Homo sapiens: one gene and its partner. The protein of the gene in region 1 purifies or fractionates together with the protein of each later gene. This does not show direct contact. Each region holds a gene or a part of one and is shown in the gene's direction. Other genes may lie near its edges.

Evidence for each region.
Region 2: the proteins of TRIO (region 1) and RPL22L1 purify together in Homo sapiens (affinity purification with mass spectrometry; 2 studies listed by BioGRID). This does not show direct contact.

What each region holds. Positions count from the first base shown.
Region 1 is NC_000005.10:14,146,342-14,153,341, forward strand, and holds part of TRIO (triple functional domain protein), read left to right. Parts: intron 1-7,000. UniProt on the Homo sapiens protein: Guanine nucleotide exchange factor (GEF) for RHOA and RAC1 GTPases. Involved in coordinating actin remodeling, which is necessary for cell migration and growth. Plays a key role in the regulation of neurite outgrowth and lamellipodia formation.
Region 2 is NC_000003.12:170,865,109-170,876,882, reverse strand, and holds the start of RPL22L1 (ribosomal protein eL22-like), read left to right. Parts: upstream 1-6,687; 5' UTR 6,688-6,715; coding exon 6,716-6,724; intron 6,725-8,492; coding exon 8,493-8,585; intron 8,586-8,681; exon of another isoform or gene 8,682-8,748; coding exon 8,749-8,870; intron 8,871-10,358; coding exon 10,359-10,503; 3' UTR 10,504-11,774.

The sequences.
Region 1 (7,000 bases):
TTTGAGCCTGGTACTAAAAGTGCCAACCTGACTTAGACAAAGGCTTTCCATTGCTTGCCTTTCCTTTCTCAGCCCTGAAACTCTGTTTGCATGGCTGCCTGATTTTCTTTCTTTTTTTTAAATTCGTTCTTGTTGCCCGCATTCGGCTTTGTCTTTGTAGCCACAGATTGAAAACTAATACCAGTGGTTGGATGAAAGAAAGAGAAGACTTTAATAGAACTTTTAAACAATTAAGGGAAGTTCAGAAATAGAGTGAACAGTCCTGTGATTTCTCCATTACTGGAAGTGCTCACATAAAGGTGCTGTCACCTGGCAGGGTTTGGAGTTGGGCTCAGGGGACAGGACTGCTGCCCTGGAGAGGGGTCCGGGAGATGACCTTGGGGCTGTTCCCCTTTCCCTGTGGACTCTGGCTTTCTCTGAGTCCTCAGTGCCTAATCATTGTTCTCCGCTTTTCTTTGGGTAGTTCAGGGCTCCAGAGCCCTGGTGCCCTTCTCCTCTGCTGAGCGTCCACCCAGGGTTCACCTCACCCAAGGTCTCATTTCCTTTGCTGTCATTCCGTTCTCTGCTCAGGACCTTGGCACTCCCTGTTCATTTTGATGATCATTTTGATCACCTATTTATAGACCTGGCATGAAGCAGGCAGGCCAATTAGTGTTCAAGTGGATTGAGTTGTAATAATGTGAGTCAAGTCCTGGTGCTTGTGTGTTAAAGAGCAGTAAGAGATTTTCTGCAGGTGTTAGTGAATTTCAAACTTCACTTTTCTCCTTTGCACAGAGCTCAGCACAGTAAAACCAATTTCAATGCAAGAGCAAAAAGAAAAAAAAAGACACCACAAAAATGAGCTAGCCTTGTTTTAATTTTATTTTACAGATGAGGAATCAGCCTTAGGGAGGTTTCATGACTTGCCCCCCAGAGTGGAACTTGGGTAGAGTTAGAGTCAGGGCCCTGGTCCCTGGTGCTCTTTCCTGGTCGCTTCTCATAGCCAGGACGTTGCTTACATTAGTTCTCAACCCCACTGGGACCAATCATTTTTATTGCCAATCTATTTTGGGGCTCTGTTCTCGTGGCAATAAATCATTCTTTCAGAGCTCCCTATTTAACCTTGTGAGAGCGTGTGTGTGTGGTGGAGGTGCTTACATAAATGCAGTATTTTTAACCTGCCTGGCACGCTTTAGGTTGGCGTTAAATGAATATCTGGAGAATAAAGGTTTGTAGTTATTCTGAAGCATCACGTCCTGTCGTGCTTGGTTTCTTTCATTATTAAATCTTACTCGACTCCTCCTGCAGCCCCTGTCTTTCCAGGGAACAGGTGAAGAAAATCAAGTCTATTAGGGAGAAGCACACATACTTTTATATATTTTGATATGACGGTTTCCTTGTGGAGTATTGAGAGAAGCTTTTCTTCATATTTATACCTTGAATGCCACTTAGGTAGTTGGCCTGGGGCGGGCTGTGCTACTTCTGTTGGTATTGAGAAGCCTGGCAGCTTTGGTCCTTGTGAGCACCAATAATGATTGTATTACAAAGTGGGTCCTTGTTACCCTCAATATTTCAAAAATAGAAACTGAAGGAAATGTAATTTGATAGTGAATGTTGGTTTCTCCTTTTTAGGTGGCACAGTCAGTTTTAGAGGAAAGCAAGGAGATTTCTAAAATTCCTGTAAGTGACTTTCGAGGAATCAAAGAAGTGCAGTAAAGTCATCACTGAAAGAAGCTTTTCATTGAGACCTTGTAAACCGACATATTGATGTGGGATATTGTATTTTTTCCCTTTGCAATTTAACTATTTAAGATTCAAATGAAAATTTAAAGAAGCCATTTCCACCATTTAAATGATTAACCAGATTTAAATGAAGCCGGTGGTGGTGTTCAAAATGAAGCATGTGGTTTACATATGTTTCCTAAATGTACCCTAAAAATATGTAATTTCAGTGGCCTTTTTTGACCTTTTAAATGTTACGATAAAGTTGAGATTTGTTCTGAACTGCAGGTGAAAGATGTGTTTGAAGCTGTCATAATCTAAGTCAGCTGTATTCAATATTTACTTTGTTTATTTACTTGACTATCGAGAAAATAAAATTTTATCTCATAACCTTGGCAGAATTCCAGAGAAAAGTCTAATTCTTAATCAATAGCCACACTTTACTGCCTAGTAAACTCACTGATATTGATAGGGATGAGCTGTGTTTTACTACAAAAAGCAGTGATAACACCCTGCCCCCATTCCTCCTCAATTCTATAATGAATTGGCTTTTATTTCCTTAAGTGCATTGTCTTGACAAAATTTTAACAGCGCCACTGGCAGGAAATAGTAGCGACTCCCTGGACAGTGAAGACTTGGATTTGCGGGAGAATCCCAGTGTATTCTGGTGGAAAGTGCGTGCTCTGACCTCATCCTCCCATTTCTTCCAAGTACTCAGCTGCGTAGACTTGGCCAAACTGACAAGGGTGATGGTGTGGTTGGCCTGGTGGATGGAGATGCTGTCTTTTGAATCTTCTCAGCCTCATTTTAATTAATGGGCTGCAGGGACCAGGCTGGGTCCCCAGCTGGAGCAAGGGGTAAGCGGGTTCGATGTGCATCCACAGGGTTCTCTTCGTCCTATTCCAGTTCTGCTGACGCGCTGTTCAGTGGGCCACTGGGAGAGGGAATGAACAGGGAGACTTCCCAGTGACCCTTGCACTTGGGAATTCTGGCTGCTGTTACTCAGCGGGAGCTGTTCTGGGAATTCCTATTGCTGTGCCTCTGAACTGAGGGGAAGGGAGCATAGAGGAGTGGTCAGAGGCTTGCGGGGCCCTGCATGTGCTGCTGGCTTCCTGCTGGACCCCTGGTCTCCTCCCCCTGTGCCCGCAGAACAGGACTTCGCTCTCACTGCCAAGGTGCCCAGCTCCCTGCTAGTTCGTAAATCTCAAAGAGAGATACCTGGCTAGATTGTCCAGTGAGGACTCCCAGCTTTTTGATGTTACTGAGCCTTCTGTGCAGACAGTCTTGCTTTTGGGGAATCTTGCTCTCATGTTTAATGGTTAACAAGTGCATAAACACTCATTTTCGCTTCTCATTCACTCATGGAAACACTTAATTTGCTTACTGAATAGTTGTGTTGTTACCTTAATTTCCTCTTTTCTGTCCCCTCTCCACATAAGGAAGCCCCTTGAAACCCAAATTACTAATCACCTGCCCCCCGGGAAAGGTTGTATGTGGGGAAAGAGAGAGCAAACCAGAGTGAGGCTACGAGCGGGGGGCAGAGGGCATTGACCTCTGAGATTTCTCCCTGTGCCATTTGATGGCAGAGGGGCTGTGGAAATGTAAAACCTCGTTTTGGTGATGAACATACTTGAGTTTTAGATTACTGGCTCTTTTCATTAGCCACATGTCTACTCTTGTCTGATGGGGGAGGATTGTAGAGTAGTCTAGAGCTGGTGTTTTGGAGGCATCTTCCTATTTGGGCTTTGTCATCAATGAGTGCATTTTAGCAGTTACACTGACAGAGAAAGCTTTCATGAAAACTTACTCAACACAAAGACTGGATTCTAGGTCTAGGGTACTTTGACTTTGTGGTGTCCACGTGAGTTGATCAGGCTTGTTTTCTCACAGTCTGTAGCCCTGCTATGGACAGGGATGAATTGCAGGAGGTTTTTCTTGGGGAGGGATTTCAGTGAGTGGCAGCAGATTTGTCCTGGCCGCTCTGTGGACCCCTTTCCTGAAAGGAGGGGGAGCTGGTGCTGCTCCATTACTGGCTTACTGCAGGGAAGGCCAAGGGGCCCCTTGCTGTCTGTCTGTTGTTGTTAGCATTGAAACTGTGTAGGTGTGAATAGATCACAAACTATAGTACAGCCATTCCATTAATGTTGAGTGAGAGAAGACAGTCTCAAAATGCTGCATGCTGTATGAGTTCCTTTATATGACACTGGCAAAAAGACAGAACCGTAGTGACAGAAAACAGATGGGCATTGATTGCCAGGAGTTAGGGGGTGGGGGAGTATGGCTACAAGGGGGCAGGAGGCAGGTGAAGGATGGGGAACTGATTTGTATTCTGGTTGTGGCAGTTACATGTGTTAAAATTCACAGACCTTTACACACATGCACACAACACACACACACCGTTTAACTGTATATGTTATTTTAAAATGTGACATTAAAAAAAGGCCAATAATAAACTGGGAGAAAAACTATTACAAATCAAAGGATTATATATATGTAATTAGTAAAGGGCTCCCTCAAATCAATTAAGACAAGACATATCTAGAAAGAAAATAGGCAAACAATTAAAAGAAGTATGAATGGCCAAAAAATACATATTCAGCCTCACTCATAATCGAGGAAATGCAGATAGAACCAATGATACCAACAAAAGCCAAAGCTCATATAAGTAATTATTCTCTAAGTAAACTTGAACAAAATTGAGTTAATTTGGAAAGATTTTATATCGATTTGAAAGATAGTAATACTTGTGTTCATACTTTGCTATGTAGGACCTAGCTTCTTATAATTGCCCGGGGGTGATCTAGGGTAATGGTAAAGATAGATAGGGGGAAATAAAGATTCTTTCCTGGGATTCTGTAATACGTGTTAATTTGGAAATCCATCTGGTGTATAAGTCAAATCTGACTTACAATAATCTTTAGCTATAGACAGTTACCATTTTTGCTGCTTCAAAATTTCCCACTCCCATGATTTGTGCTGCTGTCCAGATCGAAGATGACAAGTGGCCCATGCAGGATGATCTTCAGCGCCTCACAGTTCCTGGTGCGAAAGAAGAAGTTTAGTTTCATCTGGAGGGCTTCGTTCCTACATGAGTAACTATAGGAGGTCATTTGCCCTCTGTTCTTAGGCATTCTTGTATATAATTGACAGCTACCTATTTCACGGTATTGACAATTAATAAATGGATTTATGAAGTGTTAGCCCCACCTACTTTTAAGACTCATAACCATAAAACTATGCATGAACTTGAGAAAAACACAGTTCAAATTTACACGTATAATCCTAAAATATTTTTAAATGGGGTTTGTTGGTGCCTGTTTTTTCATTGTGTGTGTGTGTGTGTTTGTGTGTGTGTGTGTGTGTGTGTATGTATGTATGTAGGTATATCTCTTGGAAAGTCATAAAATACCCCTCTTTGGATTTCTGTGGAATAGGTGGTTTCAGTGCAAGAATGAATGAATATATCGGAGACTAATACTTGAAATCTATTTTCAAAGAACTCGTGTTTCCTAGTATATATGAAGTGACATGTATAAATGACATGAATGCTTTCAGGCAAAATGTTTAGATTGTGATTTGAAAATGATGTGCATATGAGAAGTCGTTAAGATGTTGGCCAAAACAGTGTGTGTATAAATTGATCTCCATTGTTTATTCATTTTGCTTTGCTTCCTCTTGCATTGACCCATCCACTTTTTCAAGTTCACAATGATTCTTTTTTGCTGCTGCCATTGAAGGATGCCACTGATACCTGTGAGAGGGCACTCTTTGGCATTTGCATTCTGAAAGTTTTGCATTTTCTTATTTGTGTTTACTTTTTAAGTTCATCCTTGTTCTGCATGACAGATATGCCAGGGCCTGCAGGAATAGCATTAAAATTCTGTTGTTTTTTAGATAACTTTATTAGTTTAAGTTTTAAATGATAAGGACCGAGAGCTACAATTCCTCTGTTTTTTATTCTGAAGCTGAACCACACAAATATTGAAAAACAATGCTTTGACTGGAGTGTTATATATATTTCCACCTAACTAGCTTCACACAATAAAATCTCTAAAGTTTAAATTGCCCAATATTTTGACATCTAAATAACTGGAATAAATCCCTCATTAGTCTAATAGTAAACAAATAGATTTCTCATTTGTAGGTGGCTTTTTAAAAAATTTAAGTTCATGATTATGAGAAATTCTTCCCAGCGTTCACTGCCCTTTTCAGTACCAGAGTGATGAAAGCTGGCATGCAAGGGAACATTACTAGCTCGAAAAGCAAAACAAAACAAAACAAACCCAGATCGCATGGGGGCAGGATGTATTTCAGTTTTTTTGTTTGTTTGTTTGTTTGTTTGTTTTGAGATGGAGTCTCGCTCTGTCACCCAGGCTGGAGTGCAATGGCGCAATCTTGGCTCACTGCAACCTCTGCCTCCCGGGTTCAAGCAGTTCTCTGCCTTAGCCTCCCAAGTAGCTGGGATTACAGGCGCCCGCCACCATGCCCAGCTAATTTTTTTGTATTTCTAGTAGAGACGGGGTTTCACCATCTTGGCCAGGCTGGTCTTGAACTCCTGACCTCGTGATCCACCCATCTTGGGCTCCCAAAGTGCTGGGATTACAGGCGTGAGCCACTGCGTCCGTATTTCACGCTTTTTAAGAGTCACTTCACCTCCATCTAAATTTTGTTGCACTTACCCTAATATGTCTTGGGTCCAGGAGCCTGGAGAACGGGTGCTAATTTGATGGTTTCAGGCTGTACCTTTTACTCACGTGCCAATTCAGATCAGTGCATCCTGATGGGTTGCCCATAGGAGAGCAGCTCTTCATGGCAGGGGCTTCACTGTAGAGTCATTTAGTGCCAGAATGTTGTTAGTAGGTAAATTTTGTTAGTTGGTTGGTATACATATTACTTTTCCAATATTTAATTGCAGAATTTGCAGGATTCATTGTTAGGCCTTTCTCTCATACCTCATGGGTATTGTTTATTAGGGCCAGCCTCAACTCTGCTGGAGTCTGAATTCTCATAAGGTTCAGCCTGTTTGTAAGACGGAAGCTGTCCACTGAACCAAAGAGCTGGAAGCCTTCGAAAGGCATGCAAGATTGAGGTGGAATCACACAGATTTTCGGTGATAACCTGCAGAGTGGACGATGGAGGCTTTGGAAAGTAGGATGGCAGCCTTGCAACAGCCTGCCCCTGGCCATGCTTGCCACACCCTTGCTATCCTCTAAATCTTTAACAGCAGCTGCCAGGGAGCAGCAAGAGAGGCCAGGACCCCTGTCACGTGGGATGAGATAGCACCTTTGGAATTGTGCTC
Region 2 (11,774 bases), on another chromosome or scaffold:
ACATAGGTTTGGGATTTTAAAAGCAATATTCTTCAGTACTTTTAAGATTGTCCTCAGTATCTCATTGTTGTTTGCACAGGGCTTCAGCCCATTCTTAGCCAAAGCTGCACAGTTTGCTTCCATGAGACTGTTTGCACTTCAATGTCATTAAAGTATATTTTCCCGGAAATGGTAGTGCAATGCCTCATGATGCTCAACACGCTCCACTTTGTAGCACATGGCACAGAAAGAAATAGAATGCTGTTTGCTACACATATAAAATCTATATATATTTTTTTACAATACTTAAACAGTGGTAACTTTGATGACTGGAAGTTTGGGTAAAGGGTAATTTAGAGACTTCTCTTTTTTTTTTTTTTTCCAAATCAGCTTCTAGAAAATAGATGAGCTCTTTGGGAGGCCGAGGCGGGTGGATCACGAAGTCAGGAGTTCGAGACCAGCCTGACCAACATGGTGAAACTTCGTCTCTACTAAAAATACAAAAATTAGCCGGGCATGGTGGCACACACCTGTAATCCCAGGTACTCAGGAGGCTGAGGCAGGAGAATCGCTTGAACCCGGGAGACGGAAGTTGCAGTGAGCCGAGATTGCACCACTGCACTCTACCCTGGGTGACAGAGTGACACTCCATCTCAAAAAAAAAAAAAAAAAAAGAAAAAAAAAAGAAAAAAAGAAAATGAAAAAGAAAACAGATGAGTTTTAATAACAAGTATATTTCAGAGATGCACACATTGTCTACTTTCTACATTACAGTGTGATCCTTTGTGCTGTTAGCAGAGCTGAGGTCTTCCAAAAGACAACACTACAGAATAAGGTGAACCATCTGCTCCTGTAAGAAACCTTGTGTGATGCACAAACCCAGGACAGATACAGAGCTGCAGAAAGACAAGATGTATGACATATAAAAGGACCACAACAGAGAATTCTGTTTAGAGTACTATTTGCCTAAATGTCACAGCATTTTTTCATAGTTCAAAATACACAGATACTTACATTATGGATATATTTATGAATGATTGTAAATAATCTAATGATATATTGTTAGATATGGTTTGCTAAATATTTATCTGTGACTATAGTATGTTGTATATATACACATATATATAGAATATATATATATATATTCATGAATGAGACTGGGGTATAATTTTCCTTTCTCAAAATGTCCTTGTCAGGTTTTAATATCAAAGTTATGCTGGCCTCATTAAAAAGTTGATGAATGTCTCTAATATGCCCAGAGAGTTTGTAAATTGGTTTCTTAGCCTATTGGCTGCATGTAGTTGATTTATTTAGGAAGTGATCTCAGGTAACAGAAGAAACCAGGAAAAATGAAACTTGGAAAGAACAAAAGCAAACAGAAATGTGCTGGGGACAACCGAGGCTTAATTCTTCTGGAATCTCTCATGTAGTAATATAGAATGCACTAAACCGTCCAATCAAAAGAAAGAAAGGAGCAGCAACCAGTTTCATGCAGGCGTAACTTGACAGCACCTCCCCGCATATATTTCACCTTCTACCCCATGGCTTCTCTGACATGAAGCATGGGACACCTGTGGGAACCTCCCTACAGATACCCACTTATATATTTACAACCTGAAAATGCAAGGGAGTTAACAAGCCAAAGACAAACATTTATCAGCAGGGGACAGGAAGCTGTAGATAAATTCTCCCCTGCCCTGAATTAAAAGGTAAACTGGCAGAATGTGAGTTTTGGCATAAAATTGTTACAACTGGCATTGTTTCTTCCTCAATTGTTTGGTAGAATTCACTGCTAAAACATGAACAGTATATAATCTGCCTATGGTTTTTTTGTGGGAAGGTTTTAATTACAAATGCAATTTATTTAAAAGATATAGGACTATTCAGATATTCTATTTCTTCTTGTGTACATTCTGATAAACTGTATTTTTCTAGGAATTTGCTCATTTTATCTAATTTGCCATATATTGGCAAGTGGTAGTTTATACTATCTTATTACTATTAATTGAATTATAACATATATACAGAAAAAATGAACAGATTATAATTTACAGCTTGATGAGTCTTCACAAAGTAAACATACCCATGTAAATATCACCAAGATGAAGAAATACAACATTAACAGTACATAATCTGCCTATGATATTGAGTTTTTTAAAAAAGTTCTGTGAACCCACAAATTAGACATAATTATTACTATTGTCTACAGTTAGTAGTTGTTTAGATTTACTCACAAGTTTGCTATTTTCTTTGCTCACCATTTCTTTTGACATATAAGCCTTCTTTCTAGGGTCATTTTCCTTCTTCCTAAAGTATATCTTTCAGAATTCCTTTACTGAAGAGCTCTTGATGGCAAACTTTCAGCTTTGTGGCCTAAAAATGTCATAAATGCATCTTTACTCTTGAAATGTATTCTTGGTTTTGTTTTGTTTTTTGTAGCTCTAGGTAGACAGTTATTTTCTCACAGTGCTCTGCAGATAATATTCCTTTGCCTCCGGCTTCCATTGTTGCAGATGGAAAGTCAGCTATTAGTATAAGTCATTTAGTAAATATTTTGTCTTTTCCTTCTCTGGGTGCTTTTGAAATGACTTTGTGTTTTGAAGTTTCACTACAATGTATATAGGTGTGCATTTCTTTAAAATTATCCCTCTTGGGGATTCCTGTATCTGGAAATTCAGCCATTATCTCTCTAGATTTTGCCATTTCCCCATTGTCTCTATTACATCCTTCTGGATCTCCTGGTTGACATATCCAGAAAACTTTTATTCTGACATCCTGGTCTCTTAACCTGTTTTTTATACCTTACATCTATTTGCTTTTCCACATTGCATTCTAAGTAATTTCCCACTCACTGATTTCTCTTCAGCTGTTTACTCTCTTGTTTAACTCATCTACTTTTTCTAATTTCAGTTTTTCTCTTTTTAATGTCTAAATGTTCTCTTTTGTTTTTTTGTTTTTTTTTTTTTTGAGACGGAGTCTTGCTCTGTTGCCCAGGCTGGAGTGTAATGGCATGATCTCAGCTCACTGCAACCTCCACCTCCCCAGTTCAAGTGATTCCCCTGCCTCAGCTTCCCAAGTAGTTGAGACTACAGGCATCACCACCACACCCAGCTAATTTTTGTATTTTTAGTAGAGACGGGGGTTTCTCTATGTTGGCCAGGGTGGTCTCGAACTCCTAACCTCAAGTGATCTGCCTACCTCAGCCTCCCAAACTGCTGGGATTACAGGCTTGAGCCACCGTGCCCGGTCTCCTTTTGCTGTTTTTCAAAAAAAAAAAAAAAATCTGATCAATTTTGATTGTCTCTGACTTCCTTATCATATCCTAAATACTTTTAGTTTTTGCATATACTACAAATACTTATTTTATATTCTGCATTTCATAATTCCAACATATAAAGTCTCTGTGAGTCTGATTTCATAGGTTTTTGATGTTGATTTTCATCCACGGTGGCTTGTTTTCCTGTATTTTCATGATTTTAAAAAACTGTCAGCTCTGCCGGGCACGGTGGCTCACACCTGTAATCCCAGCACTTTGGGAAGCCAAGGCGGGCAGATCACGAGGTCAAGAGATCGAGACCATCCTGGCCAACATGGTGAAACCCCGTCTCTACTAAAAATACAAAAATTAGCTGGCATGGTGGTGCGCCTGTCGTCCCAGCTACTCGAGAGGCTGAGGCAGGAGAATCACTTGAACCCTGGAGGCAGAAGTTGCAGTGAGCTGAGATCTTGCCACTGCACTCCAGCCTGGCGACAGAACAAGACTCCATCTCAACAAAACAAAACAAAACCTGTCAGCTCATATTTCTTGAAGCTTATCTCAGGGAATTATTTGTACCTGGATCTAAAATGCATTTCTCCAGAGAGTATTTGCCCTTGCTTCTGTCTGGTGTTAATAATACAAGCACACTTTAAACTACATATTCAGTTTGGAGCTTTTTCATGCTATCTGAGCAGAGCTAATTCAAGTTCCAAACATGTATGATCATTGCTTGTCATTTCTGCCCCTAAAAATTATTTTACTTTTCCACCAGCTCAACCATACATTAAAAAATTATTTATAAAACTGTATTTTAGGCCGGGCACAATGGCTCACACCTGTAACCCCAGCACTTTGGGAGGCCAAGGTGGGCGGATCAGTTGAGGCCAAGAGTTCGAAACCAGTCTGGTCAACATGGCGAAAACCCTAGTAAAAATAGAAAAATTAGCCATACCTGGTGGTAAGCGCCTGTAATCCCAGCTACTTGGGAGGCTGAAGCAGGAGAATTGCTTGAACCAGGGAGGCGGAGGTTGCAGTGAGCTGAGATTGCGCCACTGCACTCCAGCCTAGGCGACAGAGCAAGACTATGTCTCTAAAAAATAAATAAATGCATACATAAAAATAAAACTATATTTTAGCCATTGGTAAGGTAGTTACATATGGAGGGGTTTTTCTGTGTTTTTTTGCTTACTGATCTGTTTACTAAGGCTTCAGCATCATGTAGATCCAATGACTGAAGTTTATAATATATTAAATACATATCTATCATCTATTATATCTTATATTGGAAGAGCTGGAAAGGCATACTCCCTTTCATTGGTCTAGAGTGTCTTGGCTCTTTTCAGACATTTATTGTGTCATACGTTTTAGAATTAGCTGTCAACACAAGCCATAAAGAACAAAATCACATACTTTGCAGCAACATGGCTGCAGCTGGAGGCCATTATCCTAGGCGAATTAATGCAGGAACAGAAAATCAAATACTGTACTTCTCACTTGTAAGTGGGAACTAAACATTGGATACTCATGGGCATGAAGATGGCAAAAATAGACACTGGGAATACTAGAAGTGGGGAAGGGTTGAAAATCTAATTATTGGGTACTATTTTCACTACCTGGGTGAAGGGATCAATCGCACCCCAACCCCACCATCATTATATATATTCATGTAACAAAACTGTACATGTACCCTCTGAATCTAAAATAAATGTTAAAATTTTTTTAATTAGCTGTCAAATTTTTAAAAAATAACTATAGGGTATTGACTAGCATTGTGTTACTATATACGTGTGCACACGCACAGTTTGGGAAGAACTGAATTATTTACAACTTTTAGTCTTCCCATCTGCACATTTCTCGCTAATATTCTTGTTTTTTTTTCTAATTGACAAACATTTTTCCCCCATTACAGTTTCTAACTAGTTATTTGGTGATTACTAGTTCTTGTGAAACAGGTATGTTTCCATATCCTCCTTGTACAAATGGCTTAATAGTGCTTAAGGAGTTTATTGTCAAGACATGGAAGACTGCTAAAGACAAGCAAAATAGAATCATTTCTGCCCCTCAGCTTAGGCAGCCCTTGAGGAGGAAATGCCAATTGCTCCCTTTAATGTTTGGAAAGAGAAATGTGATTATTGTAGCTCTTAAGGCAGACAACTAAAAAATCTTGTTGAAATGGATTTCTTCTAGGAATTCAGGGCCTCTCTTCAGACTCTACAAGTCATATGCTCTATTAAAGCATAGTTTCCACGATAACTACTTGCTGGCATAAAGGCCACGAACAGTTCTTACTTTCTGGGGTCATTCTTCAAATTAACAACAAAGTCCACCCCATCCCTTACCCCTACCCCTAGGTATGATAATTTCATCTCCACGAAAACATATTACTGCTAAACCCAAGCGGTTCAGCATGCCACTTTTCGGATCTGATGTCAATTTACAATCCTTCAAAGCTCAAAAGCTACTTTTTCCTTTTGTCAGCAAGACACTTCCACCCTCGTGTGTCTTGTACATACTGATAGGTCACAGCAAACATTCATTGAATTTTAACTGGGAGCATTTTGGATGGAAATCAAGAGACCTGGGATTAACTGTAAAACCCATGATAAATTATACCAAACGAATGAACAAGAAGCAAGCACTACGTGTTTTTCCCTTTGAGACAGTCTCACTGTTACCCAGGCTGGAGTGCAGTGGCTCGATCTCGACTCACTGCAACTTCCGCCTCTCAAGGTAAAGCGATGCTCCTGCCTCAGCCTCCCGAGTGGCTGGGAGTACAGACGCGCACCACCACGCGGGCCATTTTTTTTAAAATTGTTTGTAGAGACGGGTTCTCCCTATGCCTACGCTGCCAAGGGTGGTCTCGAACTCCTGGGCTCAAGAGATTCTCCGGCCTCGGCCTCCCAAAGTGCTGGGATTACAGGCGTGGGCGTGTAAGCATATATATACATGATTTTTTTTTCCCGAGGACCTGGTCCCCGAAGCACCAATTTCCCTCAACAGTCATTTAGAAAACGAGGCTCACAGACAAAACACAAACAAATAACTTTTTCGCTGGAGGATTATAACTGCAATAAAAGGAGATCCCAAAGCAACCTGAGACACTGCCTTGCCCTGATTGGAAAGGGGATTCCGGTGATTAGTGAAAGATGACTCCTGCATCCCTCGCGTGCGTCCGTATCCGGGAGCAGCCACTAGGTAACTGTAGAGGCCACTGCAATTAATCGGCTTGAACAGCCAGGAGCGGAAACCCGAGAGTCAGTTCAACCACAGCCACCCGCGTGTGCCCGCGGAAAGCCGATGGCCTACTCTCGTCCGGCAGCGCACTGGTTTCCTGGGTTACCGGCCTCAGCGCTCCTCCCGCTTTCTTTTCCGGGAGGCGACAATCTGACGCTCTCAGCGCGTGACGCAGCACGCTTTGATATAAATGCAGACCGCGCGGCCGTAGCTTCCTCTCTGCTCTCGCGGCCGACTCGCAAGATGGCGCCGGTGAGTGAGCGATGTCTTGGTGGGAGTGTTGTGTGGCAATTTAATGATTTCCGCTGTAACGATTTTTGCATCTGTCGAGTGGAGACGTCTCAGTCAAGATAAAGGGAGGGGAGTAGTGAAGTCTGGGTCAGAAACACAACCAAGACGCGAGGATCCTGAACTGTTTTTCGAGACTCCCTGGCAGCTGCCATGAGGTCTAGTGGAGTTGGAGCTGGGCCCGGAATTGGTTTAGGATGGGTGGTTTTGGACACGCGGGAAAGAGGGAGGCACAACTGTAAATGGGCCGGTGGTACTGCAATCTGAGCCATTTCTTTACTATCTCGCGCCTGATAATGCTTTTGCCACTCAGCACTGGGTAGGGGAATGGTGGGTAATCGGGCCGGTCTGACGACCTTTGCCAGGCCAGAGGGAGCTCCTAGGCGCTCAGCTCCCGCGATGGCCGACATCACAAGTTTTTGAGAACTTTCAGTTGGGGAAGAAGTTTCTCGGTGAAGTAATTTTTAGAAAAGTATAAGTCTAGATTCCAGCAATGTGAAATAAACGTGCTTCAGATGTTTTACTTAAGTCATTAGTAAGGGAACCAGTAAGATGTTAAAATGTTCCTAAGAATATCTGAAAAGCTAGATATACATGCGCAATTTACAAATAAAGTTAGGATAAAATTGCTGGGCTAGCTACAAAACTGGGTAATGCCCAGCATGGCCATAAACCCTATAGGGTTATCTGTTCCATTAGACAGAAGTTGTTTGTGTCTCCCAAATTAACTTCTGCGCCAACTGGGTAATTATCTTTTGGCACATGTTACCATGCTACCTGAGAAAGCAAACTAATGTGTAATACTTGGTAGCCACTTGGGTGAATCTAAATTGGAGGTTATAGTCTGATAAATACAGATTTGTTTGTTCATATTGCAGTGAATGTACATGGTTGCTGGCCACAGTAACATTTTGCTTATGTAGCCATATTATATGGTCTTGGTATAAAAGGTTTGGATATGGAAAATTTAAGTTCCACGGTGTTGGTTTTTAGGTTTTTTTTTTTTTTTGAGACAGAGTCTGTTGCCCAGGTGGGAGTATAGTGGCATGATCAGGCTCACTACAACCTCCGCCTCCCGGGTTCAAGCAATCCTCCCGACTCAGCCTCCTGAATAGCTAGGATTATAAGCATGCACCACCACACCTGGCTAATTTTTGTATTTTTACTAGAGATGGGGTTTCACCATGTTGGCCAGGCTGGCCTTGAACTCCTGACCTCACGTGATCCTCCTGCCTCAGCCTCCCAAAGTGCTGGGACGGCACCTTGCCTTTTTTATTTTTATTTTTTCTTTTTCTTTTCTTTTCTTTTTTTTTTTTTTTACCAAAGTCCCCTTCCCTTGCCTATAATAACGTAAGAATTGAATTTTCTAGACATAGGTGGGTGGAATCCTAGCTCTGGCACTTACCTGAGCTTGGGCTAGGCAGTATACTAACCTATTCCCATCTGCAGTGGGGTGGCAGAAAAGCACGATAATTTAAAATTGATCATTGGTAGTATAGAAAACAATGAAAGTCCGTAACTTTTTGACAACTTGAACATATTAGGACTTGGTTAGAGGTTCAAATCAACCCCGGCGTGGGTAGTGGTGGTGTTTTTTTATTTATTGTTACATTTCTGTATATGTAACCTAACAGTACATTGTACAGATTGCATTGGTACAAACTTTAAAATTGTTTATATAAATTGAATAAGTTGTTTTATATAGCTACATAATTATTTCTCATTTATGTAGCAGAAAGACAGGAAGCCCAAGAGGTCAACCTGGAGGTTTAATTTGGACCTTACTCATCCAGTAGAAGATGGAATTTTTGATTCTGGAAATTTTGTAAGTATCATTCTACTCGGCTTATTTTTGTAATCAGAGTTATTGATAATGGTTTAAATATATAGTATTTGATAATAACCTAAGCTCTATTCCTAGGGTACCTTCCCTAGTGAATATCTAGGGTTCTCTTCCCTAGTTTTGCATTTTTTCTGTTTTAAAATAGGAGCAATTTCTACGGGAGAAGGTTAAAGTCAATGGCAAAACTGGAAATCTCGGGAATGTTGTTCACATTGAACGCTTCAAGAATAAAATCACAGTTGTTTCTGAGAAACAGTTCTCTAAAAGGTTGGTACTTTTGCAAATTTTAATAAAACTATAGTAGTTTTGGAATATTTCATAGAATATGTAGTTATTACATGTATTCTGTTTATATGCAAGAATAAATATGAACTTTAGACTAAAGGCCTACATAAATGGGAAATTCAGTAAATGAGTGCCAATTGCTGAGTCTAGTTGTAAGTGTCATTTATTGCTAGAATATGAGCCAGTTGTGTCCACAGTCCCAGTCCAGTAAATTATAGGCCCTGTAAATCCAAATTGTATATAACCTTTAATGCTGAGTACTTTAGTATTTGAGTATGTTGCAAGAAACATGTCTGATGTGTACATAGGAGAATTGTCTCAAGTTATTTATTCAGTAGAGGTAGCCAGTTAAAGTCAAAGTCTTAACATCTTGCTGCCAGTTTTTATTTGTTGAATTTATTCACCAAATATTAAATACTACATGGGCAGCACAGGACTGGGTAACCCAACAGTGAACCAAGCAGGCAGTTTACCCACCACCAAGAAACTTCTAGTGGAGAAGAGAGAGTGAAATGGAATTAATCAAGCAGTGATAAGTGCTGTAAGGGCATAAAACTAGTTGCAGAGTTTTTGGGTACGTTGGTAAGTTGGTCAGGAAATGAAATGCAGAAGTGAGCCTTGCAGTTGTTACAGGCAGGATGAACCAGAAGCCTGGCAGATTAAAGTAATAGTAACAAAGCCAGTGTGTCTGGGGTATAGTGTTCTGGGAGGAATGCATGAGATTGGAGGGTGTCTGGGGAGCAGATCTTGAAAGCCATGGGATGTGTAATGGGAAGCAATTGTTTATTGTGGCTGAAAAAGACTAGGGTGATACATCTGGTGGAAACTGAAGATGTAAGAGCTAATTTCAGTGAGAGACAATGATGGCTTGGACTAAAGTGGTTGCAGTACATGTTAACTGAGATTATAATCACTAAGGATTCAGAGATAAAAATGTAGTAGCTGTAGTAGCTGTAAATCAAGTATCTTACAGATAATCAGATAATTATTGTAAAATACAACTCTAGTTACATTAGATGTAGAGAGAGCCCAAGAATTTTCAGAGAAGTTGAGACTTAATGAGCATAGTATGGGTTTAACCCTATTATTAATAGGTTGCCTGTTGAGCCGGGGTGGGATTGGGAGCTAGGGGGCTTGATAGTGGTGAAGGAGGTGTTAACGTTTTCACATATATATACACAGATAATATATTTGAAGAGTGAAATCATATTGCTTAAATAATTTGGCTGTAGCAGTTTGACAAGAGAATGCTACCCTAACAATCTTGAACAATATATAGTGTGGCAGTATGACAAGAGGATGCTACCCTAACAGTCTTACACAATACATCCTGTGAATGGAAGGATGAAATATTTTGGAGGAAGCTAGGTACAGAAAAGATGAATATGATGATGTATATTTTTCGTATAGTAAACCTTTACATAGTAGGAATTGTATTTCTTAATGAAATTTATGTTTTTATTTTAAAAGGTATTTGAAATACCTTACCAAGAAATACCTTAAGAAGAACAATCTTCGTGATTGGCTTCGAGTGGTTGCATCTGACAAGGAGACCTACGAACTTCGTTACTTCCAGATTAGTCAAGATGAAGATGAATCAGAGTCGGAGGACTAGGCAAAGGCTCCCCTTACAGGGCTTTGCTTATTAATAAAATAAATGAAGTATACATGAGAAATACCAAGAAATTGGCTTTTAGTTTATCAGTGAATAAAAAATATTATACTCTTGAACTTTTGTCTCATTTTTTTGAGTATGCTGTTTATATGATTTTGATTTCCCTCTGATAACTATCAACAGTATTTAAATAGCTTATAGCTGGTATAATTTTTTCCCACGATTTCCAAAATCTTTTATGTACTCAGGTAAAAGTAGCGTTATATAGGAAATCTTTTTTTTAGACACTCTCGTTCTGTCACCCAGGCTGGAGTGCAGTGACTCAGCTTCCTAAATAGCTGGAATTACAGGTGTGAGCCACCATGCCCGGCTAATTTTTTGTACTTTTAGTAGAGTAGGGTTTGGCCATGTTGGCCAGGCTGGTTTCAAACTCCTGACCTCAAGTGATCTACCCACCTCGGCTTCCCAAAGTGCTGATTATAGCTGTGAACCACCATGCCCGGCCAGGAAATCTTACTGTAGAACAATTTTTTATATAGCTGTATAAAATGTATATGATTGTCTTGACAGTCTCAAATACTGTTTTTAATAGCTTGTAAATGTAATCTCAAGTGCTTAGAACAGTTCTTACATATAAGTTGCTCTGTAGTTTGCTCTTATAGTTAGCCCAAAGACTCTGGGTGTGAGGCCTGCTGTAAACCAATGTTAAACTGCTTATTAGAAAGCCCTAACCACCTGCTTTGTAGGCACCAGAAACTCAAAACCAAATCTCAACTCAGCTACAGAATCTACTGTGGTCCTTGTCTGAAAAAATTAGTTCACTCGGTTGGAATCTTGTCTCAGAGCATCCTCATCTCTTTCTCAAAAGCCCCTACCCCAACACCGGCGTGTTGGTTGTCTATTGAAACTTACAAGTGGATGGACCCTTTCTCCCGAATAAACTGGCCTTTGAAAGCTCTAATCGAAATGGTTTGGCAAAATCCATACTGCAGGAGATTAGGGAGGACAAGAATGATGTGCCTTTTTGTACTGCTGAGCCTGATGGTGGTGCCACTACTTCAGGTACTTAGATGAGTCTTGATGCTAATAGAATTGTGTCGCCAAACATATCTGGACAGTTACAACCTAATCTATGCATTAATTGGTTTGGGAATTGCTTGAAATTATTGTTTAATTCAATGTTTTAATTCGTTTTCCTAAAAATTTAAGTGCCCCCATCATCGTGCAATACCTCAGTGCAGCAACTCCTTGATTCTTGGATGACTGAACTT